Regions from separate parts of the Homo sapiens genome. Here region 1 is linked to region 2. Evidence: fine-mapped expression QTL. A gene starts in region 2. The other region holds a variant in brackets. All regions are shown on one strand. Distances are from middle to middle. Region 1 holds the start of SLC22A31 (solute carrier family 22 member 31). Region 2 holds the start of CDH15 (cadherin 15).

The links.
Region 1: its variant is fine-mapped to the expression of CDH15 in cerebellar hemisphere (GTEx, PIP above 0.99). The same link has a PIP of 0.9 or more in cerebellum.

The regions. Positions count from the first base shown.
Region 1 is chr16:89,188,610-89,203,724 of GRCh38, reverse strand. CDH15 (cadherin 15) reads right to left here. Exons shown (of 14, transcript NM_004933.3): 8 at 13,229-13,482; 9 at 12,253-12,395; 10 at 11,831-12,070; 11 at 11,281-11,520; 12 at 10,119-10,255; 13 at 9,812-9,970; 14 at 8,233-8,863. The coding sequence ends at 8,570. It overlaps SLC22A31 (solute carrier family 22 member 31), which reads left to right and starts at 3,188. Exons shown (of 9, transcript NM_001384763.1): 1 at 3,188-3,247; 2 at 3,909-4,012; 3 at 4,158-4,312; 4 at 4,534-4,702; 5 at 4,928-5,073; 6 at 5,175-5,283; 7 at 5,389-5,603; 8 at 6,316-6,427; 9 at 7,420-7,964. The coding sequence starts at 3,224. The coding sequence ends at 7,726. RefSeq lists silencers at 2,032-2,121, 11,105-11,434 and enhancers at 2,414-3,036, 4,285-4,908, 9,287-9,952. The variant G/A (reference allele first, on the strand shown) is at 9,224.
Region 2 is chr16:89,166,367-89,181,481 of GRCh38, reverse strand. It overlaps CDH15 (cadherin 15), which reads right to left and starts at 9,734. Exons shown (of 14, transcript NM_004933.3): 1 at 9,609-9,734; 2 at 1,908-2,066; 3 at 1,127-1,282. The coding sequence starts at 9,650. LINC02138 (long intergenic non-protein coding RNA 2138) reads right to left here and starts at 15,099. Exons shown (of 3, transcript NR_046200.1): 1 at 14,983-15,099; 2 at 14,176-14,345; 3 at 12,335-13,373. RefSeq lists enhancers at 6,018-6,517, 13,015-13,862, 13,863-14,711 and a silencer at 9,659-10,298.

The sequences.
Region 1 (15,115 bases), 22 kb before region 2:
AATGGTGCAGTCACTGTAGAAACAGTATGGTGATTCCTGAAAAAGTTAAAAATAGAACTACCCTCTGATTCAGCAATTCCATTTCTAGGTATATACATTGAAAATAATTCAAAGCAGGGTGTCAAGGAGATATTTATATTTCATGTTCATAACAGCATTATTCACAATTGCCAAAAGGTGGAAGCAACCTAGTTTACAGAAACAGATGAATGGGTAAACCAAATGTGACATATCCATACAATGGAGTATTATTCTGCCTTTAAAAAGAAGGAAATTCTAACATATGGAAAGATATGAATGAATCTTGAGGACATTATGCCAAATGAAATAAACCGTTCACAAAAAGAAAAATGCCGTGTGATTCCACTTCTAAGAGATACTTAGCTTAGTCAAAATCACACACAGAATACAGAATGCTAGTTCCCTGGGGCGAGGAGGAGGGGCTATGGGGAGTTACTATGTAACGGGCATCGAGTTTCTGTTTTACAAGGTGAACAGAGTTAAGGAGCTGGATGGGGGTGACGGCTGCACCATAGTGTGAATGTATTTGATACCACTGAACTGCACACTTAAAATGGTTAAGATGATACATTTTGTTGTGCTTTATCACAATAAAATAACTGAAACAAACCGGAACATGGGTGTTGGCAAGGATGTCGGGGAACGAGCACCCTTCTGTATTGCTGGTGGTGAAATCGAACCGCCGCTGCGGAAAACCGTTCTGCGGTTTCACAAACAGTTCACACCCTAAGGCCCAGCTATTCATGCCTAGGTATACACCAAAGATAAATGGAAACAGGCACCCAAATACTTGTACGAAAATGTTCATCGTGTCACTGGACGCAAAAGGCAAAAAGTGGAAACAACCCACTGTCCATCAACAGAGGAAGAGAGAAACGTGTGGGCTCCATCCACGGAATATTATTCACTCCTGAAAAGGAACGCGGGTCTGATCCCCGCTCCACCGGGGACGAACCTTGAAGACGCGATTCTAAGCGAAAGACGCCGGAACACAAAAGGCCACAGCACGTAGGGCTCCATTGAACGGAGGTCAGAACAGGCTGGTCCGCGGAGCAGGGCGGGGGCTGCAGGGCCCTGGAGGGGCGCGGAGAGCGGCCGCCGACGGGCGGGCTCTGCTCGGGTAGAAGCTGTTCCGGAGCCCGAGAAGGTGCTGGTCCCGCAACACTGTTGGGGGGGCCCCGCTGAGCTGAGCCTTGCGACCCGGTTTATGTGACGTGAGTTCCACCTCAATCTAAGTGTGAGGAAGCGAACAGCGTTCTGAAACGCAGAAACGTGCCCATTCGAATTGTTAACGCGAGCGCAGAGCCCACTGACAAAGCAAAATAAGACAAACCGGGAGTCAGAAAACTCAGCGACCCACAGGATCCACCGTGATGTTTCCCACAAATGTTACCGCGAAAACAGTCGGACTTGAAAATAAACGCGACCTACCTGGTTCTCGGAAGGGGAGAAGGATCCGGGCGAAAGGCGTCAGTTCTCCCTCGCTCGCCCCGTAGACGCAGCGCAGGCCCCGAGCTCCCGAGCGGCGGTTTCAGAACCCGCGGGTCACCCGGGAGCTCCTCCCGCAGTACCAGCCGAAAGCTCCCAGCGCCGAGGAGGGCGGGCGGCTGCCCTCCCCGACCTCGCCCCGCCCGCGCGGACGCCCCCGGCCCCACGCGGGGACCACCCCGGGACGCCGGCCGGAGCCCGCGCGCCCCCGGGCAACCTGAGTGCACCTGCGCCGCGAGGGCACCTGAGCGCTCCCGGCCACGCCCCTGCCACGCCCCCGGCCCCCACGTGCCGCCCTCACGGGGCCCCGCCCCCTCGCGGTTCGGCCGCAAGCCCCGCCTCTCAACCTTCCCGCCCCTCAACCTCCCCGCCCTATGCCCCAGATCGGGCCCCGCCCCTTTACGCCTTAGGCCCCGCCCTCACACCGCCCGCCCCCACACCCCGCCTCCACTGGACTCAGGCTCCGCCCCTTAATGCCTCGCCCCAAAGCCCCGCCCCAGGAGCCCGCCCTGGTCCAGGCCCCGCCCCGTCCCGAGCGCAGCCTGCGACCGATGGAGCAGGAGGCGCGGGTGCTGAGAGCTGCGGGCGGCTTTGGCCGGGCCCGGCGCCTGCTGGCCTCCGCCTCGTGGGTACCCTGCATAGTGCTGGGGCTGGTGCTGAGCTCCGAGGAGCTGCTTACCGCGCAGCCCGCGCCCCACTGCCGACCGGACCCCACGCTGTTGCCCCCAGCGCTGCGCGCCCTGCGCGGACCCGCGCTGCTGGACGCCGCCATCCCGCGCCTGGGGCCCACGCGAGCCGCGAGCCCCTGCCTGCTCCTGCGCTACCCCGATCCCGCGCCCTGCACCCGCCCCGGGCCCGCGCCCCGCGCCCGCACGCAACGGCACCCGGCCCTGCACACGCGGCTGGCTCTACGCGCTGCCCGGCGCCGGCCTCCTGCAAAGCCCGGTCACCCAGGTGCGCCCCCGTCCCTGCTGCCCCGCAGCCCTCCCCGCCCCCAGCCCGCCGAGGCCCTGGGTGTCCTTTCTCCATCCTACCTGGCGCCTCTGACCCGGGCCCCCCGGCCGTCCTCCTGGGCTTCCTGCTCCGGGGCGGCCGCCGGCCCGACGGTGCCGCAGACGGGCGCGCACGGGCCGGACCCGCGGAGAGGGGCCGGGCGGGGGCTGAATCTGGGCCTGGGAGCTGCCAGGCGCGGGGCGGCCTGGGGCGCTGGAGGATTGGAGCCGAAGGCGCCGGTGGGGGAGCAGGGCCTGGAATTTGCTTCAGGACCACCAGCGTCTTCAGCAGACCGTGGCTTTGGGCTGGCTTTCCAAGGCAGAGTCTCTGCTTGGAGGGACTGACGTGGTCAGCACAGACTGGGGAAGGTGGGCTTCCCATCAGTGAGGTGCGCAGAGGCTGGGCTAGAGACTGCATTGCCTGAAGGGAAACCTTGACGATCTGCGTGAGAAGAGATGGGGAGGCGGGCGGCAGGGACCTCCAGGCCCCTTTCATGCCTTTCCGCGCTGGGGCTGAGACCTGCACACCCCTGAGGCAGCCTTTACCCCGAGGCCCCCATCCCCCATCCTGGGAGGACTGGCCCCAGTGTGGAAACTGGAACGGGGTTGCCACATCTTCACAAGGGCTGCCTGGGGCCCTGGAACCCGCCGGGCTTCTCTCTCCACCCTGCTCCCTCCCACCTCCCACCTGCCCTCCTCCTGTTTGGTGCCTGGATCCAGGAATGCCCCATCAGCTTTCCCAAAACGTCAGGTTTGAAAGTAAAATCTCGGGCATAGCACGGCCCCCAGCAGTAGATTAAGCTTGCCAAGAAGACCCAGGAACCGGAAGGGGTGGGGGGAGGCGCAGAGCTGAGGTCAAGGGTCAAGGGCCTCACCGGGAAATGCCGCTGAGCACAGCTCTCCAGCCGCTGCCCGAGTCCCTCTTGAAATGGGCAGGGCAGGGAGGGCGTGGGTACCAGCGCAGGTGCTGGGGTTCATTTCTTAGGCCTGTGTCATGGCTATGACCCTTGGCCGGCTGGGGTGGGGGCTGTGTCTATGACGCCACCAAGGCCCTGGGTGTCCCCGGGGTCCCTCGGAATAGGAGGTGGAAACGGGTCGGACAAGAGCTGGCCGTGGGGGAAGAGCAATGGTGTGCGGAGGTGGGGGAGGCCCTATCTAGGGACAAGCAGAAAACTTAGGGTGGGCAGATCCCCCCGACCCCTGTGCAGGGGCTGCCGGAGACCAGAGAGGCTGCTGTGTGACCTGGACCAAGCCCCTTGCCCTCTCATGCCTCAGTTTCCCCTTCTCTCCACGGAGGGATTGAGCAGGACATGGAGGGCCCCTTCCAGTAGCCATTCTGGGACTCCCTGCACCTGTCCCCAGGGGAGGGTCCTGAGCTGGCCTCCACGTGGCTGCTGTTCCCCATAGTGGAACCTTGTGTGTGGAGACGGCTGGAAGGTCCCGCTGGAGCAGGTGAGCCACCTCCTGGGCTGGCTGCTGGGCTGTGTCATCCTGGGAGCAGGCTGTGACCGGTGAGGCCCCTTCCCTTTTCCTGCTGCCCAGCAGCCCTCCCCTCCGCCCACTCTCAGGGTTCAGCTAGACCTGGTGCTGCCAGGATGAAGGTTGGACCCTGGGTTATCCTGACCCTGTCCAAGCATGTCCCCCGCTGCCCACCAGGTTTGGACGCCGGGCAGTTTTTGTGGCCTCCCTGGTGCTGACCACAGGCCTGGGGGCCAGTGAGGCCCTGGCTGCCAGCTTCCCTACCCTGCTGGTCCTGCGCCTACTCCACGGGGGCACATTGGCAGGGGCCCTCCTCGCCCTGTATCTGGCTCGTGAGTACCCTGGGGGCTGCTGTCACTGGGGGAGGGGCAGTGGGTGGCCCGCAGGCCTCTGAGGCTCCCTTGCCGAGGGCCCCGAGCTGCAGGGACAGTGAGCAGTGAGTCCCTTGGGCATCCCGCTCCTGGGCAGGTCACCAATAGGTCCCCGCAGTTCCCAATGGAACTGTTCCAGTCCTCCCCGAGGCCTCCACTTCAACCTGTCTGTGTCTGCCCAGGCCTGGAGTTGTGTGACCCTCCCCACCGCCTGGCCTTCTCCATGGGGGCTGGCCTTTTCTCGGTGGTGGGCACCCTGCTGCTGCCCGGCCTGGCTGCGCTTGTGCAGGACTGGCGTCTTCTGCAGGGGCTGGGTGCCCTGATGAGTGGACTCTTGCTGCTCTTTTGGGGGTAAGTGTGGTGGGAGCTGGGCCAGCAGCCCTCATCGGGGCTGACTATGTAGCTTCCCTCTGCACCGACGTATCCCATGCCAGGTAAACGCATGGGTTACAGGGTCACAGAGAACTACAGTGATGTCCTGCCCCTGAGCCTGGGGGTGGGGTGGGGGCCCTGGCCTTTGCCTCTCCTTCCAGGAGGAGGTGGAGGGAGCCGTGGGCATCCTCACCAACGCTGCAGGTTCCCGGCCCTGTTCCCCGAGTCTCCCTGCTGGCTGCTGGCCACAGGTCAGGTAGCTCGAGCCAGGAAGATCCTGTGGCGCTTTGCAGAAGCCAGTGGCGTGGGCCCCGGGGACAGTTCCTTGGAGGAGAACTCCCTGGCTACAGGTCAGGCGCCTACCAGGGAGGAGGGAGATTCAGGTACTGGAGGAGGGCTTCGGAGAGGCACAGCTCCTCACCCCCCTCCCCTCACATCTCTGCGGCTACAGAGCTGACCATGCTGTCTGCACGGAGCCCCCAGCCCCGGTACCACTCCCCACTGGGGCTTCTGCGTACCCGAGTCACCTGGAGAAACGGGCTTATCTTGGGCTTCAGCTCGTGAGTCGAGGAAGGGCTGGGGTCCTGCACCATCCCCCGGGGTGGGCATATGGTCCCCAGAGTCCCCGGCTCTGGCTGGGCCCATAGATTTGCTCTCTCTCCCAGGCTGGTTGGTGGAGGCATCAGAGCTAGCTTCCGCCGCAGCCTGGCACCTCAGGTGCCGACCTTCTACCTGCCCTACTTCCTGGAGGCCGGCCTGGAGGCGGCAGCCTTGGTCTTCCTGCTCCTGACGGCAGATTGCTGTGGACGCCGCCCCGTGCTGCTGCTGGGCACCATGGTCACAGGCCTGGCATCCCTGCTGCTCCTCGCTGGGGCCCAGTGTGAGCTTGGGGCCCCGCAGGCCATACAGGAGCCATTGTGTTTGGGCCGACGGTCTGCCACACCAGGGGGCCATAGTGCCGACAGGGGAGCAGCCTGGGGTGGCAGCCCAAGGCCAGCTGCTGTTTGTTTTCCTCTGATCCTTGTGGAAGGCCCAAAAGGATCTTTTGTGACTGGCCTAAAGTAAGGAAACTGTCTGAGCCTAAAACACCTGCCCCAGCCACAGAGTGCAGCACAGGCATGAGAGGTCAAGAGGCCGGGCTGGGTAAAAGCTCTGCCCAGAGTTCCAGGTGGCCGAGGCCGGCCATGGACTGGTGTGGGAGGGCCCATATACTCAGGGCCAGCCACATGGTGTGTGGAGCTAGGTGCAAAATGAAATGCAGGCCTTGCTTCCAACGTATTCGAGATTTTAGGACGGTTCTCGAAATTGCAAAGACAGTGGACAGCACAGCAGTAGCTGAGCGTGGGCCCGAGTGGAGGTGGTCGGTGTGGCTGCGGCTCGGGGTCAGGATTCTAACATCCTTAGAATCCAAGCCAGGCTGGAATCAGGCTGCAGAGGACAGGTTCCCCCTCCAGGTTTCTCAGGGGGGCTGGAAAAGGAGGCTTGGAAAGTGGGTCCCCAGACAGTGGTGTGGTTCTCTGGGGAAGGGCCCTGAGTGGCCAGGGTGGAAGGCCTGGGGAGAGAGCCTGGGAACCCCTGTTCTTTGTCCCCAGATCTGCCAGGCTGGACTGTGCTGTTCCTCTCTGTCCTGGGGCTCCTGGCCTCCCGGGCTGTGTCCGCACTCAGCAGCCTCTTCGCGGCCGAGGTCTTCCCCACGGTGATCAGGTGAGCTTCAGGGTTGCCCGGCCACACAGCAGGGTCCAGGGCCTCTCATGGGGAGGAGGGGCCAGGTGGACAGGAGGCCCTGTCCCCATACCCCACCCAGGTTCCTGCCTGTGATTCCTCCATCCAGTAAGGACTCGGGGTAAAGCACTGCCCTGCTCCTGGATGGTGGGGGCCACTGCTCACAGAAGGCTCTGGGCAGACGGCTCAGGAACTGGGAAGGGGAGGGAAGGCCACGCAGGCCTGAAGCCAGGAGTGCGGGGTGGGGGCAGAGATGAGGAGGCCTCCAGAAATGGCAGAATTCTCGGGGAAAGCATCACTTTTCGATCTTCTTCTTCTTCTTTTTTTTTTTTTTTGAGATGGAGTCTCGCTCTGTCACCAGGCTGGAGTGCAGTGGTGTGATCTCAGCTCACTGCAGCCTCCAACTCTCTGGTTCAAGCGATTCTCCTGCCTCAGCCTCCTGAGTAGCTGGGATTACAGGCACCCACCACCACGCACAACTAATTTTTGTATTTTTAGTAAAGACAGGGTTTCACCATGATAGCCAGGATGGTCTCGATCTCCTGACCTCATGATCCGCCTGCCTTGGCCTCCCAAAGTGCTGGGATTACAGGCATGAGCCACTGTGCCCGGCCACTTTCCAGTCTTGAACAGAGCAAAAAGTGCTCCAGGAGAGGAAGGAGGTTTTTCCAAAACAATTTTTCAAATTATCCTCAGCCAGCAAACCTTAGGCTGTGCGGAGGCCGGGCCTTCCCCCTGCTCACTCTGGAGTCACATGTGTGTCCCCCAATCTGTTGCCCCACCAGCTGCCCCCAACGCACTCTCTCCCACAGAGGGGCCGGCCTGGGCCTGGTGCTGGGGGCCGGGTTCCTGGGCCAGGAGGCTGGCTGCCCCCAACACACTCTGTCCCACAGGGGGGCCGGGCTGGGCCTGGTGCTGGGGGCCGGGTTCCTGGGCCAGGAGGCTGGCTGCCCCCAACACACTCTGTCCCACAGGGGGGCCGGGCTGGGCCTGGTGCTGGGGGCCGGGTTCCTGGGCCAGGCAGCCGGCCCCCTGGACACCCTGCACGGCCGGCAGGGCTTCTTCCTGCAACAAGTCGTCTTCGCCTCCCTTGCTGTCCTTGCCCTGCTGTGTGTCCTGCTGCTGCCTGAGAGCCGAAGCCGGGGGCTGCCCCAGTCACTGCAGGACGCCGACCGCCTGCGCCGCTCCCCACTCCTGCGGGGCCGCCCCCGCCAGGACCACCTGCCTCTGCTGCCGCCCTCCAACTCCTACTGGGCCGGCCACACCCCCGAGCAGCACTAGTCCTGCCTGGTGGCCCTGGGAGCCAGGATGGGACCAAAGTCAAGGCCTGGGGCATGGCTGAGTACCCCAGACGTCTGGTCCAGGGCAGACACATTCCTCTCAGAAGCCCGTGTCTCAGTGCAGGTGGAGCCGTGGGGACAGCGTGAAGGTGTCTCCAGCCAGGCCCCAGGCACTGGGAGGCCCTGGGTCTCCCCCCAGCCACACCCAGTAGGTGTGGAGGATAAAGGCTTCTGTGGAACTTGGCGTCCTCCCTGGTTCTTCCCTCAGGCCACACCTGGGGCCTGGAAGGGTCTCACCTGTGCCTGCTCCCCACCTCTGGGCTCACCAGCAAGGAGCCAGGGTGTCAGCGGCTGCTCCATAGCCCCTGTCCAGGTAGTGGCAGCCCCCGGCCGCCTCCTGCCCCAGCCAAGCAGGGTGGTATGGGGGCCTGGCCCTCAGGTCCCTGCCAGGCCAGGCCTCACTGGCCCCATCCCCCTCATGGTCAGTGTGGCAGTGGGCGCCCGTCCTGCATGAAAGAGACTAGCACGTTTTTCATTCAGATTTACCCAGGAGGTTGCTGTCTTTCATACAAAGATGAGGTTCACTGGTAGGAGGCAAAGGTGGGACTAGGGAGGTGACCCGCATGGGGCCGATGGAGAGAAACTCTTCCCACCCCGGCAGGAAGGGGCCTCTTCCTGGCCGCCCCATCCACACTCAGGTTCTGCCCCCAGACTTGGGCCCTCGCCTACAGGAAGGAGGCTGCCCCAGGCCCAGGGGGGTCGGGCCCGGTGACCTCAGGCTGCCTCTGCAGGGGCCATCACTGCCACGAGGCCGGGGAGTGGCATGTCCAGTTGCGCCCCAGGGTCAGGCTGTCCGGCCTCTGTGTCTGGGTAGCAGTGCCCCAGGAGAAAGACCCTCCCTGGCCTGGTGGTCCCATCTGGCCCCGTACTCCAACCCGCACGGGTGCCCATACATGTCTGCCAGCCGGGCGAAGCGGGGCCCCCAGTCTCTGAGGTAGTCGTAGTCCTGGTCCTCATCGCCCTGGCTGGACAGGATGGAGCTCAGCGTCCCCGCCACCGAGCCGTCACCCTCGTAGTCATAGATGAGGGCTGTGTCGTAAGGCGGCACACTGGGGTCACTATCTGCAGCCTCCAAGCCCTATAAAGAGGCCCGGAGAGCTCAAGACACATGGAGGGGCCAGCGGGTGCCCCACCGCCGTGGCCACAGCCCAGGGCAAAGTCAGCTCAAGGCACGGGCTCAGGAAGGGGAAGCTGCCCACGTCCGGGGGCGAGGTCTGAGGGGAGGCAAAGCGTCCTGAGGGCACAGCAGCAGGGTTGTGAAGAGGGTGCCACGGACTACCCCCTTCCTCAGTATTAGGCCAGCGGCCAGCCCGTCCCCCGGGGCTCTGCCCTGCCCCAGCAAGGTGGGAAGGGGTTGCTCCCCCTCACCCTGGTCTCTTCCTCCCCGTGGCCCTTGTCCACTCAAGGCAGAACCCGAGCCTCCTGGACACCCCCATCC[G/A]CAGAACGGCCCGTCTGCCTTTCGGAGGCTCTGTCTGCATGTCTGTCCTCTCAGCTCGTGGGGACACACGCTCCTAACCGGGGGTGTACACCTTGGCTGGGGGCTTTCTCTGAGCCAGGTGCTACAGGTGCAGACAGGCACAGAGGAGGGTTCCCTGTGCGCCCCACACCCCAGATTCCCCGTGTGCACATTCATCCTGTGGATGGCAGGGAATCATTAACGCTGTGTCCAGAGGGTCTTCTATGGAGGCCCTGATTCCGCTGACAGCCACCGAAGCCCAGGGGATGCTCCCGGGGCTCCCCCACCCCCTCCATGGTGGACACGGGGCAGTGGATGGGTCTGTGGCCATCGCCACTCCATCTGTGCAAAGACCCGCGTCGCGGGTGGAGGCTGAGGGCCCAGTTTGGACGGTGGCAGCGGGGCTTCCACACTCCCGCCCGCACACCATCTTCCTCTGCGGTGCTCTGGGACGGCCCATAAGTGCATGCAGGCGCCGGTTCTTGCATGCATGTGCAGGTGTGTACATGTGCATGTGTGTGTGCACCTGTGCGTGCCTGTGTGTACTGGGGTGTCCCCAGGAGCACCTACATCATTGATGAAGTCGGCGATGTCCAGGGGGCTGGTGGGCAGCACTCGGGGTGGCTGGGGGTGCAGGCGGCCCTGCGGGGCATCTCTGCGAAGTGGCGGCGGTCCCAGAGGCAGGCTCAGCGCTGTCGGGTGACGCAGCTGGCTGATGTCGTAGGCGTCCTGTGGGCGAGGAGGTGGAACAGAGCCAGGCATCCCTCGGGTGGCCCTGGTGGAGGTCTCAGGTACAGGCTCCTGGCCAGCTTGTTGTAAGAAGGCCCGCGACCTGGGTTCCTTGGGGACCCCTCCCCACCCACACCTGCCCCCTCACCTGGTCCTCCTCCCCGCCTCCTTGCTCATCGTAGTTGAGGACATTGTCTCGAAGGTCGTCCTGGGGGCCGTGCAGCAGCCCCTTGCCCCGAGACTGCTTCCAGAACCGCGCCCGGAGTGCCACGAGCAGGACCAGCACTGGGGAATGAGGGGACGCAGGCTGGGGCCAGGCACAGGGCGCGACTTCAGGGGGCCGGGCTGCGAAGGAGGTGGGAGGAGGGGGCGGGGCGGGGCAAGGCTGGTAAGCAGGGGTGGGGTTGAGGGGGCGGCAGTTGGGGAAAGGGCGTGTCTGGCATGGAGGAGCCGGGGTTGGGGAGGAAGCCGCGAGGTTAGGGAGGAGGGGGCCGGGTTGTGGAGGAGGGAGCTTGGCTGGTAAGGAGAGGCCGGCTTGGGGAAGAGGCGTGGCTGGCAACGAGGGGGCGGGGTTTGCGAGCAGGGGGCGGGTTGGGTGGAAGCGGCGTGGCTGGTAATGAGTGGGTGGTGTTGGGGAGGAGGCGGCAGTGGAGAAGGGGCGTGGCTGGTAATGAGGGGGCGGGGTTAGGGAGGAGGCGGAGCTGGGGAGGAAGGGGCGTGGCTAGTAATGAGGGGGCGGGGTTGGCGAGCAGGGGGCGGGTTGGGTGGAAGCGGCGTGGCTGGTAATGAGTGGGTGGTGTTGCGGAGGAGGTGGAACTGGGGAGGAAGGGGCGTGGCTGGTACTGAGGGGGCGGGGTTACGGAGGAGGAGGAGCTGGGGAGGAAGCGGCGTGGCTGGTACTGAGGGGCGGGGTTAGGGAGGAGGAGGAGCTGGGGAGGAAGCGGCGAGGCTGGTAATGAGGGGGCGGGGTTAGGGAGGAGGCGGAGCTGGGGAGGAAGCGGCGAGGCTGGTAATGAGGGGGCGGGGTTAGGGAGGAGGCGGAGCTGGGGAGGAAGCGGCGTGGCTGGTAATGAGGGGGCGGGGTTAGGGAGGAGGCGGAGCTGGGGAGGAAGCGGCGTGGCTGGTAATGACGGGGCGGGGTTAGGGAGGAGGCGGAGCTGGGGAGGAAGCGGCGTGGCTGGTAATGAGGGGGCGGGGTTAGGGAGGAGGCGGAGCTGGGGAGGAAGCGGCGTGGCTGGTTAGCAGGGGACGGCCTGGGGAGGAGGGTCCGAGGGTCCGAGGGTCCAGGTGGAGGCGGGGCGCTCACTCACCCAGCAGCAGGAGGGCGCTGGCCAGCACGATGACCAGTGCGCCCAGGCTGAGGCCTGTGCCCCCCGCCAGCAGCGCTGCGGCCCCCGGCAGGCAGACGCCGTCCTTGCCGCAGCGGCACACGGTCACGTTCAGAGGCTGCTCGCGCTGCTGGGGCGGCTGCCCCGAGTCCCGGAGCAGCAGGCTGAGGCGGTGCAGGCCTTCGGGGACCTGGTGTCGCGGCCGCAGGCGCGCGTGGCTCACTGCGGAGGGCGCCTGTGGTGAGCGAGGGCCTCCCGAGGCCGCCCCCACTTCGCCTGCCCTCCTCGCGCCGAGACAGGGTGGGGATCCCGAGATCCTGGGCCTGGGTCCCCCCCACCCCCACCGTCCTCTGGGCACAATGAGTAACCCTGCCCCACGGGAGGATGCAGTGGTGGGGGGGGTGGCGGGAGGGGACCTGTTGCAGGACCACGGGTTTGCATGCCCCTCACCCTCCTGCCCCCGTCCGAGGCCGGAATGTGGGGGTGGGGGGAGCGTGGGGATGGGGGGAGCGCGGCGGTGAGGGGAGCGCACCGTTGACCTGGCTGAGGCTCCAGTTCCGGCCGAGCTCTGGGAGCCTGGGGCTCAGCTGGAAGTGGAAGGGGGCCCCGTGGGGGGGCAGGTCCTCATCCGTGGCGCCCAGGAGGAGGCCTGGGCCTTGGTGTGGCTCGCTGCACAGGCTGCCCGGCGGCGGCGGGGCCAGCACAGGTGCATGGTCGTTCACCTCCAGGATCTCGATGGACAGGGTGCCGGTGGCGGTGCGGGGCTGGGAGGCTGCAGGCGAGGAGGCCGCGGCTTAGTGACCCCAACACCCCAGCCTGCCCCACCAGTCGGCTCAGAGCGGGTGCGCAGCTCTGAGCCCCCGGGCGACATGGGCAGAGCCCTCCGACACTGGCAGGGGTGCTCAGCCGGGACAAGGCCAGGTCAGGGAGCCCCAAGCCGGCGGCGCCGCTCACCGTCATCCTGGGCCAGGACGATGGCTCTGTACCAGCCGCCCTTGAGGAAGGGGGACGCCGGGCTGAGCACGTGCTGGGTCTGGATCCGGCCAGTGGCTGCGTCCACTTGCAGCCAGTCTTCCGGGTCGTAGTCCTTGGAGTAGCTGATGCAGGGGAGGGGAAGAGTGGGATCTGAGTTTACCCCAGGGCCCCACAGGTGTGGTCAGGTATGGGTGCGTGACATGCACTGCACACACACAGGCACACACATACATACCACATGCATGCACACATGCACACAACATATACACACGCACACACAGCCTTACATGCCACATGCATGCACACACCACATACACATACATGGGCATGCACAGCACACACACATGCACATATATACACATAGACACTCCCCCCCACCTTGCACATACCACCCCCCACACACCTATACACCACACGCATGTACCACACATGTGCACACACATATGCACATACACATGTACACACAACCCATGTGAATATGATGGGAGCTGCAGTCACCAGCACCTTCTGTGAGGTGAGGAAACTGAGGCTCAGGGAGGGCAGGCGAGCTGTCCAGGGCGCTGAGACAATTGTGTGGCAACCTAGTTAAGCCTCAGTTGGTGCTGGCCCTTCCCGGGCCCCGTGGACACAGACAGGGATACACAGGGCCAGGCTTGGAGTGAAATGAGATGCGAACGGCCAGTCCCTTGGGAGCAAGGGCCTCCTGGGATGGACACGGCTGGCAGGGACAGACTGGCGTGCACAGGCTGGAGTTGGGCCTGCCCTAGGGGGTGAGGTCACCCCAACATGCACACACGGGCATGCTCGGGACTCGAGACCCTCCAGACCTTCAGGAACCCACACAGCAAATGGCCCCTACACCCTCTGACCCTCAGAGCCCAGGGATCAGGGGCACCCGAAGCAGGAATGGGGCCGTTAGCCTCCTCTACCTCTCCCAGGGCCTCAGGAGCCCCACCTGAGCCTCTGCAGCTGCTCTGTGTCAGGGTCCCGGGCAGAGAAGGTGGCCACCAGAGTGCCTGGGGGTGCCCCCTCTGCTAGGCTGGTCCGAAGTGGGTTCTCCTGGAACACGGGGGGCTCGTTGGTGTCCTGCACATGCACGCGGACCTTGGCCTGGCCCCGCTCAGCCCTAAGGGCAGCCGCCTGCAGCGGGGCCTCATTCTGCACCGACACTTTGAGTTCGTAGTGTTCACAGCTCTCATAGTCCAGGGCCTGAGGGAAGGAAGCACAGCCCGTCATCCGCCCAACGCAAGTGTGGGCACCCGAGGGCAGGTGCCATGGGGGAGCCACTCCTTGGGTCTGTCCAGAGCACCTGTACTTTCCTTCTGCCCCTTTTTAACCTTGAAAAAACAAATTATGCAGGACAAGAAGGCACAAAGAATATTATTAAAATGCTGGTTGTGTGTGGTGGTGGTTGGGGAGCAGCCCAGGGTTCAAGCACATACTCCGCGGGTATTTCAGCGAGGGCCGTTGGGGGATGGCGCCAGCCCCTGCAGTCACTTGATTTTAAATAAAGGAGATCGTCCTGGGTGATGTGGGTTGGCTTTATCCACTCAGGTGAAGGCTTTGAGAGCAAAACTGCATTTTCTCTGCCTCTAAACTGCTGCGTCGGCTCCAGCCTGTGGTCTGCACGTTAGACCTGCCCAGCCAGACCCCAGCACCGCATGAGCCAATTTCTTGCAGTAAACCTCTTACTGTGTCAGTATCTAAATACACCCACATCTACACGTGTGGACATATCTGTGCATGTGTCTCCTATGGCCTCTTTCTCTGGTAGAACCAGGACTGACACAGGTGTGCAGCTGTGATTTTGTACATGGATTCCATATGAAAGGAGGAAGGCTGGACAGAGCAAAGTGGTGGAGGGTGTCCCCTGCCTCTGGCCCTCAAGCCCCATGGGTAGCGTGGCCTGGGACCCAGTCCTCAGGCTGGGGGGCTCCATGCCCTCCCCCACTCTCTCTCACCCAAGGACGAACACAAGGTCCCAGCTGGTCAGAGGATGTGAACCTGCCAGGAAGGGGCTCAAACCCCAGCATGGGCATCTGTGTGTGGGCATCTGTGTGTGGGCATCTGTGTGCGCCAGCATCTGTGTGTGCCGGCATCTGTGTGTGGGCATCTGTGTGTGCCGGCATGTGTGTGTGCCGGCATCTGTGTGTGGGCATCTGTGTGTGCCGGCATCTGTGTGTGGGCATGTGTGTGGGCATCTGTGTGTGCCAGCATCTGTGTGTGGGCACCTGTGCGTGGGCATCTGTGTATGGGCATCTGTGTGTGCCGGCATCTGTGTGTGGGCATCTGTGTGTGGGCATCTGTGTGTGCCGGCATCTTTGTGTGGGCACCTGTGCGTGGGCATCTGTGTGTGGGCATCTGTGTGTGGGCATCTGTGTGTGCCGGCATCTGTGTGTGGGCACCTGTGTGTGCCAACATCTGTGTGTGGGCACCTGTGTGTGGGCATCTGTGTGTGGGTGTCTGTGTGTGGGCATCTATGTGTGCCAGCATCGGTGTGTGGACAGTGTGGGCATCTGTGTGTGGGCACCTGTGTGTGGGCATGTGTGTGTGGGCATCTGTGTGTGCTGGCATCTGTGTGTGGGCACCTGTGCGTGGGCATCTGTGTGTGGGCACCTGTGCGTGGGCATCTGTGTGCCAGCATGTGTGTGGGCACCTGTGCGTGGGCATCTGTGTGTGGGCATCTGTGTGTGGGCATCTGTGTGTGCCGGCATCTGTGTGTGCCGGCATCTGTGTGTGCCGCCATCTGTGCGTGGGCATCTGTGTGTGCCGGCATCTGTGTGTGGGCATCTGTGTGTGCCGGCATCTGTGCATGGGCATCTGTGTGTGCCGGCATCTGTGC
Region 2 (15,115 bases):
TTTTATCTTTTTTGTTTTACCATTTTATCTTTTGTTGAGACAAGGCCTCACTTTGATGCCCAGCCTGGTCTCGAACTATTGGCTTCAAGCGATCCTCCTGCCTCAGCCTCCCGAAGTGCTGGGATTGTGTGAGCCACCGCGCCCGGCGCTCACTGCCCCTTCTCTGAGAATCCCAGCCCCCAAGGGGCATCAGTGGTTTCTTCCCTGACTAACCCCACTGCCCAGAACAGTGGCGGCCACTGGGATCAACATTATTTTGGGGCCAGGTGTGGTGGCTCACGCCTGTAATCCTAGCACTTTGGGAGGCCAACATGGTGAAACCCCATCTCTACTAAAAATACAAAAATTAACTGGGCACGGTGGTGGAGCCTGTAATCCCAGATACTCAGGAGGCTGAAGCAGGAGAATTGCTTGAACTGGGGAGGTAGAGATTGCAGTCAGCTGAGATTGTGCCACTGCACTCCAGCCTGGGCGGTAGAGTGAAGCTCCATCTCAAAAAAAAAAAAAGGTCGGGCGCGGTGGCTCACTCAGGAGATCGAGACCATCCTGGCTAACACAGTGAAACCCCGTCTCTACTAAAAATACAAACAATTAGCCGGGCATGGTGGCAGGGGCCTGTAGTCCCAGCTACTCGGGAGGCTGAGGCAGGAGAATGGCGTGAACCCGGGAGGCGGAGCTTGCAGTGAGCCGAGATCCCGCCACTGCACTCCAGCCTGGGCGACAGAGCGAGACTCCATCTCAAAAACAAAAAACAAAAACAACACTATTTAGAGATTCTTCACGACACTCCTGAGCTCCCAGGACCAGTGGGTTGCTGGCTGTGGTTGAGCCACAGAAGCTACAGCGGCTGCAGCATGCTCCTCCCTGGCAGAACCAAGCCGCTCCTCCACGGGACCTCTGTCTGCCCTCCAGTTAAATGGGCACATAACCCTCAACAGTTGCCTCCTCCGGCTGCAGGGCCTCGGTCCCAAACCCCTGTACCTGCCCCCTCACTTAAGGGTGCCTGGATCTTGCAGTCTGGCCTGAAGCCCACCGAGCGGGGAGGAGAAGCCTGGTGGGGAGGAGGGGCACTGGCTTTCCACCAGGCCTGCTTGAGGGGCACAGGTCCGACCACGCAGCTCCGCACCCTGAAGCGATCAGTCTTCTCGCGGTCCAGCATGGCATTGAGGAAGACCTTCCCTGTGAACTTGTCGATAGAGAAGACGCCCCGGGGCTCCTCATCCACGCCGGGTCCCTGGATGCTGTAGATGACGCTGCCCAGCTGCTGCTTGTCCGACTTGATCTGTGGGGCAGGAAATGGGTTTGGGGAGAGCTGCTCCGGGCGGGGGCCTCTGCCCTCTCTGCAGCCCCTCAGGCCCCTCCCCAGCTGACAGCAGGGCAGGTCTAAGTCTCCTAGGACTGGAGGACGGATCCTGGTACCCAATGAGGAGCTGTGCTGGGCTGGGGACAGCTCAGCCTGTGGCCCCAAGGGTGCCCCGTCTTGCAGCCTCATTTCAGGCTCAGCTCCTGGTGTCCTCAGGGCCCTGGTCTCTGGGGCGATTTTGGGTATGTGAAGCTGAGGCCCACGCAAGGCAGTTCACCTTCACCTCCATCTACTCAGCGTCGGCGAACACGCACACAAAAATCACGCCCGAGCGTGCAGCCTAACGTGGAGTATGTCCACCCGAGGCGCATGTGGGGTGGGAGCAGCTCTGGACTCCCCTGTGGCCTGGGGCAATGGGGAGGGTTTGAGCCCTGCTCTAGACCCAGGTTGGAAGCCCAGAGCCCTGGCAAGGTGGGCGAGTCCTGCCTCAGCTCTGTCCTGAAATGGGGCCCCGCTGGCTCCCAGGAGACCTTTAGAGAATGAGGGAGGCCCACTGGGGACCAGCCTACCCCTTTCTCCCCTCCTGCCCCCTCCACCTGCTCACCTGAACCAGGGGGTAGGGGAGACGCTTGTGGTTCTCGGATACGCTGATCGGGGGGATGACCCAGGCCCTCCGCACGCGGCTCAGGGCAGGCGCCCGGCGCCAGGGGTACAGGGTGGTGGGCCTCCTCCATCCAGGAACCCCCAAAGACAGGCAGAGGCTCTGCAACAAAGACAGATGCGTCCCACAGTACCGTCTCCTGGAGCCCTGGGCGGCAGCGTGCAGCTGGGAGCTGTGGGTGGTGAGGAGGCCACGGGGCGCAGTGTTTCCCTCAGCCCACGGGTCGGTGCCCATTGGCGCAAGGCGGCTTCCACACACGGGGCTGCGTAGCACAAGGGCAAAGGCACGTGAGCCCCGCCCCCGTCGGACTGAGCCAGGGCCTTGGTGGCCACACCCCAAGTACTGGCCCTCAAAGCCCCCATCCAGCTGCCCCCGAGTCTCCTACTGGGCCCACTCAGCAGCCAGGCTGTCTGCAGCCCCTGGCGAGTGCATGGGCCACTGGGAGGTAGCGCTAGGGTTCCAGGCCTCTGGCTGGGAGGGACACCTGAGATTCACCCGGCGGGGACACAGCCTCGCCCCAGGTGCCAGGGTAGCGGTGCACACGGAAAGCCCCTGGGCCAGCCAGGGCTGGGGAGAGCGTGGGGTCCTGACACGGAATGACCCCAAGAAGCCAGTGGCGGTGCCTGTGGGCACAGTGGGCTGGCTGTGGAGGGTCCGGGGGAGCGGCAGGGGAGGTGCCTGCAGGAAAGTGCCCGTCCCCCTCCACCTCTCCAGGCTGCTTTGTGGGAACTGAACCCCGGGATGCGAGAGTTCAGCTCCAGTCCATCAAGAGCAGCTGGAGATGTATCCGTAATTCATACAGCGGCCCCCAACTGGACTGTGCTGTGTGGCTGAACCGGCCTGCAGCTGCTGCTGGTCTGTCAGGTCCCAACACGTCAGGGCTGGGCAGCCAACGCTGGTGGTGCGGGTTCCTGAGACTGACTGGGCAGGGGCCAGGGCTGCCTCGGTGGGGCTGGGTGGGGTGGGGCTTGTTGTGGCTGCACAGCCAAGAGGGACATGGCTGGGGACAGAGGGGCAGCCCCACCCCCAGCCTCACTCTTCTTCTCCCAGAACAGGGTACCTCGGTAAAATCTTCATCTCTTCACCCCAATACTTCAGCTGCTGGGACCCTGGTGTGCCCATCTCCTCCTCTCCCACATCAGGGGCTGGGACGCACTGTTTGTAATGCACACGGGAAGCCCTGGTGCTCGGGGATGGGGCCTGGGCAGAGTGTGGGGTGCAGAGGGAGATGCTGTGCACCCCACCCTACTCCAGGGCCGGGACGACCCTCAGGCCGGTAAAGACCCCAAAGTGGAGGTGGCTGCCCCCAAATTCTCCCGAGGTCCTGACGGTCAGCAACTTTTGTGACCACAGATAGCCCCACACCCACCCCTCAGATGGGGAAACTGAGGCCTAGAGAAGGGACCCAAGTCCAAGAGCCAGGTGGAGAGGGGCACTCGTAGTGACCCCAAAAGCACATCCTGAATTTTCTGGTTTTAAAAATGCGGTCACCGTACCCAGCTCCTAGCCTGGGCCTTGGGCCTCCCTCCTGGGGTGCCCGGCCCCACCTTGGTCAAAGGGAAGCTTAGAGACGGCGGGTCCTGCCTGTCCTGGGATCCCCAGGACACCTGTGCTTGGGACCCCCGAGCCTGGGGAGTCAGTGTTTCTGGGTGGGCTGCATGGCTCTTCCTGAAAGACCCCTGACCCTAAAGCACAGCCTGGTGGAAGCTGCCGCAGCTGACAGGACATGGCTCTGGGCTGACCCCACTCGGCTCGGCACGGACATGGGGGTCACCCTCGAGCTCCCCGGTCAGGCTGATGCCTGGTGCAGCTCGTTGGGGCACAGAGTCTGCCTGAACTTGGTGAGGGCAGCAGGGGCCAGGGCTGGGGGAGAGGCAGGGGAGAGGGAGATGAGGGAGGAGGAAACAGGGCTGCCCTCTCCCATCCCCTGTGCCCTCTCCCCGTCCCCTGTGCCCCGGGCCTGGCTAGGAGCTGTCTGTGCCTCCCTAGTCCTGGGGGTCGCCAGGCTCCCGGCCTTTCTCTCGGGTGACCCTCCTCCCTGGAGGCCCCCTCCCACCCAACAGCGCTCTCCTAGCTGCCAGAATGTTCTAGATATTCACCATCCAAGACCCACAGGCCACATGGGGCTGCTGAGCCCTTGAAATGTGCCTGGCAAAAGTGAGGAGCTGTGTTCCCCTTTCACCTCATTGTGGTTAAGGCCCCATGTGTGGCCAGCACCCAGCCCCACATGCCCAGCGCTCACAGCCCCAATCAGCCTTGGCGAGGGTACCCCGACCTTCCCAGCCCCCCACTGCAGGGCTGTGGGGGTGAGAGACCCGAGGCCCTTCCCGCCCCCCACCGGTACCACGTGTAGTGAGGGTGTGGCGTCTGCATCGTCCCAGTGACAGGGGCTACAGAGGAAGATGCTGAGTTGGGGTGGGCAGGGTGGGAGGCTTCCAGGACCCTGTGGCCAGGGTTGTGGTGGGGGTGGCAGCAGCTCCCCAAGGAACAGACCCTAACGCAGAGACGGGGCAGCCTCCTGCACCACCCGGCTGGGAGGGGACAGAGACCCCCTACCCCGGGCCATGCTCTCTGGGGCACCCCCACCCAGGACAAGCCCTCAGGCTGCTGGGCTGCCATGTCGGGCAGGGGGACGGGTGGGAGGTGCTGGGGGTCCCAGGCAGGCGATGGGGAGTCTGGGAGCAGAGCAGGCCCCAAACATCACCCACCACACACAAACTCCTCAGCTCCCCTTTCAGACAGGGCCCCCATCTTAATATCACCATCTTCGCGGCCTGCTCCTGAGCTCCTTCCCCATCTCCACATCACCGTCTTCGCGGCCTGCTCCTGAGCTCCTTCATCTGGACAGCAGGTGGGCTGGGGTCTAGGGAGGCTCACGGGACTCCCCAGCCGGCACCAAGTCCTGTGCCTACTACAGAGGTGTGCCGGCCACGCCACACCAACACCTAGAACAGCTCCCCACATTGTGCGAGCGGAGGGAGCACCGAGTCGGCCCTGGTGAGCGGGACCCTGCGTGGGAGGCCTCACCCAGCTCCCCGCTGGAAGGGGGCACCCGCTCCAGGCAGGGTGGGGCCCCATGAAATGGAGCACCGAGAACCGGGGGGTCAGAGCTGGGCCAGCTGGGCCGCCCCTCCCCCTGCAAAACCACAGGTGTCGACAGCTACTCTGACCACCACGCCCCTGCTGGCTCCGAGGCTGCCCGCTCTCCTCAGCCCCGTGCCAATGCCTCACCCTCCAGTGCCGCCTGCTCCTGCTGGCTTTGCCGAGACTTCAGTCTAGGCAGGGGCCGGGACGTGGGGGCATGTGGCCTTGAGAGGAGGCAGCGGTTGGGGGCTGGTAAGTCTGAGTGGGCGGGGGCCGGGAAGGAGATGTTGGCATGGCCAGGAAGCCTGTCAGGCCGAACCCCCATTAGGCTTGGCCTCTGTCCTCCACCACCGGCCGCTTACCCTGTGTGGACGAGCAAGGCCCAGGCTGCCCATCTGCCCACCCTGAGATGGGGCACTGGGGCCTCTCGCTCTGACTGTGTCCTGTGCCCAGGGCTGGCCCAGCACACAGAGGTCCCCACAGGCAGCGGCAGCAGCCTCCAAACCATGGCCACCTTCCCTGGGGTTCTTGGTCCTCGGCCAGCAGGACCTGAGTCCCCTCCTCCATGGCCTCCTGGGAGTCCAGAGAGTAGCAAACGCTTTGGCAGGAAGCAGGGAGAGGATGGGGTGGGGGTTCCTCAGGCTCCCAGGCAGGGGACCCTGCCGGGGAAGCTCTCTGCCAGCTGACAGATGGCGGCCCTGGCCTCGGAGCCTGCCAGCACCCACAGAGCACAAGCCACTTCCAGGGCAGGGCAGCTCCTGCCAAGTGGAAACCTGCCTGCCCAGCATGGGGCCTTCATCAGCCTCGGTGGGCACAGGGTCTGTTTCCGGCCGTGGCTGGGCAGCTTTGCACCTCCCTCTCCCCCTCCCCTTTGGTCCTCCCAACCCCCCGGGAGCCTGTGGTGGTCCCTTCACCTCCCAGCTCTGGGCAGTGAGGTTCAGAGAGCCTGAGGCATTTGCTCAAAGCCACACAGACAGAGCCAGGAGTCACGTGGGGTCTGAGACCCAGATTAGGCTCTGAACCGCATGCTCTGAAGGAAATCCAGCCACAGAGCCACACCGGCCTTGGGCTAGGCATGGGCATGGGGCAGGGAGACCCCAGGCTCTAGGAACCCCACACGGCTGAGGTGGAGGGGCCACCCCCACCCGGGCAGACGTTTCCATCCCCTCCCTGCCCAGCTGCCACCAAACCTGGGCCAGCCCTGTTCACCCAACCTCCAGCTGCCTCCACCGGAGACCCTCCAGTCACGCTGGGCCGGGTGTGGTCAAGCCAGAGGCTGGGAGTCCTGGGCCCAGGCCTGTCCACAGCCTGAGTTCACCAGGTCACAGCAGCCACAGAGCCTTGGCAGGGCTCACTTGCCCAGATCACGGCCAATGTGGGTGTGGGTGAGCAGGCTGGCCACGGCCCACTTCCGGCTCTCGGGGGCGTTCTCAAAGCTGGCTCTTTGTCCTCCCACCCCATCCCCGTCCCAGAAGACGTGGCCAGTGGAGGGAGGGCCTGGGAGCCGTCCTGGGGAGATCGGGACATCCGGTGCCCAGGACAAAGCCACATCAACGCAGCCAGCCCACAGCCCTGCACCTGGGGTAGGGGACGCAAGCACCCTGGGAGGTGGATTTTGTGGACACTCGTCCACTCCTCTCTGTCCCCCACCCAAGCCAGGCAAGACCCATGGACATTAGTGACCTGCTTCCCCACAGGGGGTCCCCAATGACACCCCCAAGCTCATCCTCGACTGGACCCTTAGCCAAGAGCCTGGAGGGAACCACCTCGAAGCCCTTGAGACGTCTGGGGCCACCGCCCTGCAGCCAAGCTCCTGGGACTTAACGCCTCTCTTGAGGTCTGCTCCTAGCCTGACACTCAACCCCAAGGGGCTGCTGTGTAAGAAAGCTCTGCACACACTGGGCGCTTGCTGCAGTCTACAAACACCACTGCGAGGTGGGAATGGGGTTTACGAACACCACTGCGAGACGGGAACGAGGAGCGGTTCTGGGGCCGACCTTGCACTCCTGCTCCCCCGGTTTTCCAAGGAAGGGTGCTACGAGATTCTAGGAACACGCTTGGTGGCGTGTGGGTGGGTTTGCCTGGGAAGAGAGTGCGAAGGCCCCTCAAGCTTCTCAGGCTTCAACCCCTCCCCCAGGCTGGAATCTGGGGCCACCCCGTTCCTGGATGGCCAGGCATGCCAGGAATGGCCCCAGCTGTTGGCCTGGCCCAGAGCGGCTGGAGCATCTTCCCTGGGCCCCACCCTCTCTAGCTGCTGCGGGCTTCAGAGAAGGGATGTGGAAGAAGAGGCATGGAGGCAGCTGTCCCCTCCAAAGCACGGTGTCTGGGGCTGTCCTTCCACTGTGGGAAGAACAGTGGCCTGGGAGCCACTTCCCTTCTTGGCCTTGGTCACAGTCACCCGAGCTAAGAGCCCCTGCCTGGCCCCCAGGGTGCTGCTGACTGTCTCCCAGAGACCAAGGGGCTCCCAAAACCCAGATGCAGAAGTGGGGACCTTCCCAGCAGGCTGGGGTTCTCTGTGAGTCAAGTGTGCTGCCCCAGACCTCAGCCGCCTCCCAGCTGGGGTGGGGTCCCAGGTGTAGAACCAGCAACTAGGGATGGTGTAGGTGCAGCAGGGCTGAGAGGGGCCAGTTCTGAAGACACCCTCCGGGTGGGGCTGAGTGAGCTCAGCAATCAGAGGTGGCCCGAGCAGGGGAGCAACCCCTCACTTGTAGAAGGCCCTGATGGGCCCACGCTGCCTGCCTGGGGGCTCACCAGGAGGCGGCCCAGGACCCCAAGGCTGCCCAGGAGAGCTCACAGTCCTGAAAGCTGAGCTGCTGGGGGAGGGGCAGGCAGGGTCCTGACACTGACATATTTTGCCTCACAGTGGAGTGAATTTGAGCCTTGGCGATAGTCCCCTTGCCATCTGGCCCCCACCTCCACCACCTCCCCCAGCCTCCAGCTGTCGGGGGAGGGGGTTATTGTCCCCCAGCCCTGGGCGAGAAAAGAAGGGACAGTGAGAGGGAAGGCTTCTGAGGAGGGAGAGGTCCTGCCTGCCTCCCCACCTGCCACAGAGCCCCCTGGGGCCTTTTGAAAGGCAGACACTCCCAAATCCAAAGGAAGAGGTCTGGAGGAATGTTTTCACAGGCGCCAGCCTCCCCACCACCATGCCCTGGGTTGGGGTGCCAGGGAAGAAACCCTGTCCCCAGAGCAGGTGGGGAAGGGCCCTGGAGGCATGGAGCCCCCCAGCCTGCGCTCCCCGGCAGAGGGCTGAGGGGTGGAGGGCCGGGGGGTGAGCACGCATGCTGAGCCACTGTCTCCCCCCACCACTGTCTCCAGATGGGGGAGTCGGGGGTGGCAGGAGCCGTGGTGCCCTCAGGGGCAGCTGCTGGAGGGTCTGGCTGGCCAGGCGCCTGGTCAGCTGCCAGGGGCTGAAATTGGAGCCAGCTGGAGCTGGGAGGCCTGTGGGAATGAGGGGACTCAGGAAGCCCCTTCAGTGGGGGCTGGGAAAGGAGTGGCTTCCCTTACTCACTGTGTCCAGCACTCCCTGACCACCCCAGGACCACAAGAGCAATGAATACTGTGAGCACCGCTAAGCCCTTTATGTGCATTCTCTCTCGAATTGGCCAGAGAGAGGCTGCCCTCTTGTACCCAGTGACGTCCCAACCACAGCCGGCCATGCCCCAGCCCAGCCCAGTCCCTGGGGGCTGAAGCCACTGAGGCCACATCCTCCATGTCTAGGTCCCCCTAGGGTGTGAGGAGACGTGGCTCCAGCTAGGCAGTACCCATGTCGGGTGTGGGGGGCTGAGGCCTGGGCTTCCTTCCACTCTGGCTTGCTCCCACGTTGGAGAGACCACGGTGCCAGCAGTCCAGACAAGATTTTTAGGGGCAGAGTCCAGCAGCCTCTGGGGGCTGGGCCCCCAGGCCTGATCACCCCAGGCAGCTGCGGCAGGGTCCCAGGTGAAGCCCAGGAACAGAGCCCCCAGGGCTGCCACACGCCACTCTGCAAGGCCGTGTGTTGCGACCTGGCTCGGGCTGGGCCCTCCCAATCGAGAAGTAGCCGTGAGGGTGAGTTCCTGGGGGCAGGGCCTGCAGCCACCCCTGCTGGCCAGGAACTTGGGGTGGGGGGTTTGGACAAAACCCAAGACTAGCCAGGGGTCCTGTGCCCACCGCAGGGAGTCCCTATAGAAACCTGGCCCCCAGCCCCCCAGAGAGGGGCACTCCTGCCGCTCCCCCCTCTCTCTGCTCCACTCAAGACTGGCAACCCCCAGACCCCGGCAGCGGTTCCTCCAAAGAGAGGGCACGGCTACCTGGGTGGCCCCTGCCTGGGGTCCCTGACCCCAGCAGCACTCTGCAGTCCTGGGGGTGATTCCACCAGATGGAGTGTTTGGTTACACTCACTCCCCACAACCCCTGGGGTGCTGCCCCCAGCCCAGGGACCCACCCGGAGCCACTCCGCTCACAGGCCCCCAAAGGCGACCAGGGCCAGTGGTTCTGGGGGAGACCTGTGCGGCTGCAGTTGAAGACACTGTCCCGCAGCGTCGAGGGAGGCAGCGGGGACCCCCGCAGGTGCCGATGCCTTACCTGGGCCAACAGCCCGAGGACGAGGAGGAACGCGGCGTCCATCGGGGCCGAGGCGGGAGCCGGGCCGGAGTGCACCCGCGACCCGAAGAAGCGCGTCCAGGCTGAGTGACAGCGCAAGTGCGCGGGGCGGGCCAGGGCCAGAGACAGAGACAGCACGTGTGAGGGGGGCGGGGAGGGGGCGGGGCAAGGGCTGAGTGACAGCACGAAGGAGGCCTCTGACGGGCCGAGGGCCGGCCTGGGCAGGGCTAAGGCTGAGTGACAGCGTGTTGGCAGGCGGGTGGGGCGGAGCCTCTGGCGAGCTAGGGCGGGGCGCAGGCTGAGTGATAGCCCGTGTGCGAGTGGGGCAGGCGGGGCGGGGCCGGGGCCGAGGGCTGAGTGACAGCGCAGGTGCGCCGGCGGGGCGGTGACCGCACGAGGCTGGTGGGGCGGAGCCAGAGGAGGATGGGGCGGGCGGGGCGGGGCCGAGGGCTGAGTGACACCTTGTGAGAGTGCGGGGTGGGGCCGGGGTGGGGCCGGGGCGGGGCCGAGGGCTGAGTGATAGCTTTTGCGGGGTTCCGGCGGGCAGGGCCAGGGCTAGGTCGGAGATACCCCGGCTTGCTGCGTTGGGAGCAGAGCCAGAGGCCAGGCTGTGGGGAAGGCAGGGTGGGTGCGTCCGGGTCAGGGACCAGCTGGGATTCCTGGCTTCTTCATTTCCTGCTCCTTGGGCCCGGCTCGCCCCTGCTCCAGGGAATCTGCATTGTAGTCCCTGCCGGGGGACACCTCTTGAGCACTTCCTTGGGCCCCTCGCCTCTCTGGCTGCGTCTCCTGCGCCTCCCCGCATCCCACTGAACGCTAGGCCCGCCTTCCACGCACCTCCTCGCGACCTCATTTTGCCCAGCTCTTATTCAGTATGGAACTGCTCTGGTTCACACGCCTCTGATACCAGCGTGGCTCGTAGGACACCCCCAATTCCCCCAGTCCACGCACCTCCTCCAGCATCCCCTTGTTCCCCGAGGCCCCCTGCCTGGAGCACCTTCCTTCCTACAGAACTCCTTCTCATCATCCCTCAACACCCAAGGTCAACGCTGCCGCCTCCTGGAGCCTCCTTGCCACCTCGGCCAGAAGCCCTCCCTCCTGTTGACTGTGGCACCTGTTCTCCCCTTCGAGACCCCGCCCCCTGGGATGGTGTGGGTGTGGCTCAACACCTGCACAGGCCCAGCGCACGGTCAGGAAGGTCCTGGAGAGGGGGTGGAGGGGGCTGGAGGCAGGAGGATCCTTTCTTTTGAGCAGGCAGGGTGGGGAGTGGGGGTTGCCGACCAGCCCAGGGCCGGGCCGGGGAGCCCGTTCCTCTCTGTGATGGGAGCAGACCCGGTACCTCTGCTCTCCTGTCGACGGCGGGTGGCTGTGCAGGTGCAGGCAGCATCTGTGCACTTGGCCTGCTTGAAAGGAGGCCAGGCTGCCCGGGAGGCTCAGGCCAGGACTGTCCCTAGCGCTCACTGCTCCAAGATGAGAGAGGGCAGGGAGTCCATCTCCAGACTGGGAGGCCTCTGGGGCTGGGGTGTAGCCTGTTGGGGACCACCATCCTGCCTCTGTGGTCAGTGACCTCAAAATAGGGGTGGAGAAGCCCTCTGAGTGCTTTTGGTTTTCATCCTCACGGGACTAGTGCAGGGGTGAGGTAGAAGTGCTCGCCCTCCCCCCAGAAAGAGGTCTGGGGAGGCTGCGGTCTGCCAACCCCAGCTCCTCTCCGCTTCCACCCTGCACCCACCTCGCTTCAGCCACCTGCCTCCCACCCACCTCGGGGAGAAACGGAGGCCAAATCCCTCCTCCATGGGATGTGGGGGTCTCTAAGGGAAAGGCTAAGCTGGGCCAGGTCCTGGGTGAGCCCCAAATGCAGGGCGGGGCCAGGGAAGCAGCCGGCTTAACCACTGCGGGAGGGTGTGCTCCCTGGCTGGCGGGCTATCCCCCAGGGGCAGGTGCCCCCGCGAGGGACCCCGCTCCACATGCTCCCAGGGCAGCAGGAAGGTCAGGAGGCAGGAGCCTGGGTCCAGTCCCAGCTCGGAGCCTTGGGCTGGAGGTTCTCCCCCGTGCCTCAGTTTCTCCTTGTGTCAGAGGTAGGTGGCAGGGAAGGGCTGGGTACCCTGAGTCTGGAGGTCCTGTGCAGTGGGGGCAGGGGTACATTTTCGGCTGCAGGACCATCAGCCCTAGAAGAGCCCTTCCCTTTCCTGGTGGACCTGGAGACGCCGGACCCTCCCTCAGCACCCCAAGCCTCCAGCTAGGACCCCACTCTGGGCCTTCTCCTCCTTTTTCCAGAGTCTGCAGTCCTGAGCCTTTGGGACTCACCCCCATCACTCCTGCCCTCTGCCTTGCCCACCTCAACTCTCCACCTCGGGGGACGCACCTCATGGGCATGAGGTGGGGGTGGGCCGGCCAAGATGTAGAGGGGGCTCCCTGGTCCACAGCCTCAGTTCCCATCCTATTTCCTCTCCCCAGTATGAGGAACGGGGGGACAACAAACAGGGTCCCGGACCCCCCAGGAGCCTTGCAGTCTTGGATGTCCCAGAGGTCCCCCCACCCCCAGCCCTTGGCCACTCCTCCCAACACCGCAGGCAGTGGTCGAGGCTGGGCTAAGGAATTTCCAACTTTCTCACGATAGATGCAGGCGGGTGCCGGTTTTCAGCTGAGATGCCATGGTGTCTGCTCTGGAGTGATTCTGTAATTGCACAGTGCAGTAACGGCACTTGACCCTTGATTATTAAATTGTATTTATGTAATTACAGTGTATAAATATACATGCACACCCCAACCACTAAGGGGCAGGCGTGATGCGGAACGCTGCGGTTGAGCAAGGTGGGCTGGACAGGGGCCCTGTGGAGGCCCAGGGCTTAGGCCAGTCACAGCCCCGTTACCGAAGAGGCAGTGGGGGCTGGAGGGCAGGGGTTAGCAGCTGTGAAGGCGGCTCCTACCCAGGGTGTGGGGCGTGGAGGGCAGAAGGGTGACGTCCAGGGAGTTTGGGTGACACCCGACACCAAGGGAGGGGACCCCGGGGTGAGGAGGCCCTGGTCTTGGTCTGGGGGCTGTGTCCATTCCAGACCTGACCTGAGGCTGGGGTGCCTGTGGCAGGGGCTCTGGGGGCTTGCTCTGCAGGTACCAACTGCTCCCTGAGGAGCCCCTGGGCAAGTGCCCCTGTCTGACAGGCAGGGCCTGAGGCTGGAGGAGGCCGGGGTGAGGAGACAAACACAGGTGGGCCCTGGCCGGGAGCCTGGCGTCGGCCATGGGCCATGCCCTTCCAACATTCTACTCTGGCCGGGAGGCCGCCAGGGCGCTGGGGTGAGGCCGACACCCAGTCCTGGGGCCGTCAGAGCACAGACCAGCCCATCTAGGCAGATGAAGGTCCCCACGGAGTGAGTGAGGGGTGGGGAGTGGATCCAGAAGGGCTGGGGCCACCAGCCCCCACGGCCCCTGAGCCCTGGCCTGAGTGCATGTGGCTGGCTCTGGGTAGTGGGCCCTGCAGAGGGACTTCCGCCCATAAGTTTCCCGTAAGTTTCCCCGGGACAGAGGAGACGCAGCTGGATCTCGGGGTGTGGAGGAAGCCAGGCAGTGTCTGTAGCTGGGGCCATCCTGGACCCTGCTGTGCTCCGGCTCTCTGGGCTCAGGGGTGACACTGCCCCCACATTCAGGCAGGCCACCAGCTGCCCCTGGCGGCCACAGGGGGTCAGTCCAGGTGGGCTCAGAGGAGCCCCATCAGGTATGGGGGTGCCGTTTTTGTTCAGAAGCCCCTGACCCCCCCTGCAACACACATGAAAAGAATATTCGAGAAGTCTGTTTAAAACATCTTGGGCATTCAAAACACACGGACAGACAGACAGACAGACAGACGGACATGTTAGACAGGAGGGGCTGCTGGTGGGGGCGGGGTGGTGCTGGCCCTCCTGAGGACCTGGGGACAGCAGGTCCCTGGAGCCTGACGGTCAGTCCTGGCTCTACGGGGAGTTGGGCACAGAGGGGTCAGGGGGTGGCGGGCCTGTCTGGGGCTCCCTCAGGCCTGTCCCTGACCTGGGGAAGTGGGGTCCTGTCCTGCCCAGCCAGCCTGACACTGGTTTTGCGTCCCATCTCCCCACAGTGACAGAGGAGCCAACCAGGCACTGGCTCAAGGTGCAGCCGTAAGAGCTCGGGTGGGCTCAGGACTGGCGGGCTCAGGGCTGGCGGGGTCAGGGCTGGTGGCCTGGTGGCCCATCACACCCGCCAGCCCCGGCAGGGGGCAGTGTGGCTCCAGGGATGCCAGTGGAGGCGGGTGGGGGAAGGGCAGCGGGCTCCTCCGATTGCTGGAGGGTGTTCAGGGCAGAGCTGGGAGGGGACGATGGGCTCTTCCCTGCTTCCGTCTCCATGCTGGACATGCCTGCCCCCTCCAGGCCGGCCCAGCACTGTCACCAAGCGTGGACGCCTTGACTTCCTGCCCTTGGAGCCCCAACCCGGGCAGGGATCAGGGAGGCCAGCGGCCAGGCATGCCCCAGGGGGGGGCTGCAAGTGTGGTCCATGCCCACCACCCTTTCCCTGGCCCTGAGCACTGGGAAGGTGGGGGGCAGCTCACCTGAGGTCTCACCTGGCGTTGGCCCTGAGACCACCCGAGCCTCCCCGATGGCTGAGGCGAAGGCACAAGGGTGGCCAGGCCAGCAGGGACTCCTGAGGTCGGGCCAGGCCCCAGCAAGGCTGAGGCTGAGTGGGCGGAGCTGGCCACAGGGGTGGGGACGTGGGACAGCACTGTTGGGGGAACCAGAGAGCAGAGGTCACCAGGCTGCTCCCGATGTTCAGGCTTTCACAGGGATCCATAAGCTGCAATGGCCCCCAGTCAGCACCCTCCAAAGACAGGCTGTGGCTGGGGATGGGGCTGGGGCTGACGGTGGAGTGGCCCACACCCCCCAAGGCCCCTAGAGTCCTGACCATCCCCACGGGTAGTGCCGGAGCTCCCAGCTGCCTTGTGAGTCATGGGGGTGGGAGCCTCATTTGGCTGAACCTCAGAAGGGCAAGTGGGGCATGAGTGGCCTTGTCCTGCCCCAGCCCAGAAAGCTGTGGTCCCGGAGAGAGTGGCTGTCCAGCCCCCCACACCATGCGAACGCTCCCCTCCCCAGCAGATCCCACCCATGGCAGGCCCATCTCTACCCAGTTCCAGACATCTGTCCTCTCCCCCGCTGCGTGGGTCTGTGTCCCCAGCAAATCCCACCCATGGCCCATCTCTACCCAGTTCCGGACGTCTGTCCTCTTCCCTGCTGCGTGGGTCTGTGTCCCCAGCAGATCCCACCCACGGCAGGCCCGTCTCTACCCAGTTCCGGACGTCTGTCCTCTCCCCTGCTGCGTGGGTCTGTGTCCCCAGCAGATCCCACCCACGGCCCATCTCTACCCAGTTCCGGACGTCTGTCCTCTCCCCTGCTGCGTGGGTCTGTGTCCCCAGCAGATCGCACCCACGGCAGGCCCATCTCTACCCAGTTCCGGACGTCTGTCCTCTCCTCCACTGCATAGGTCTCTGTCCCCAG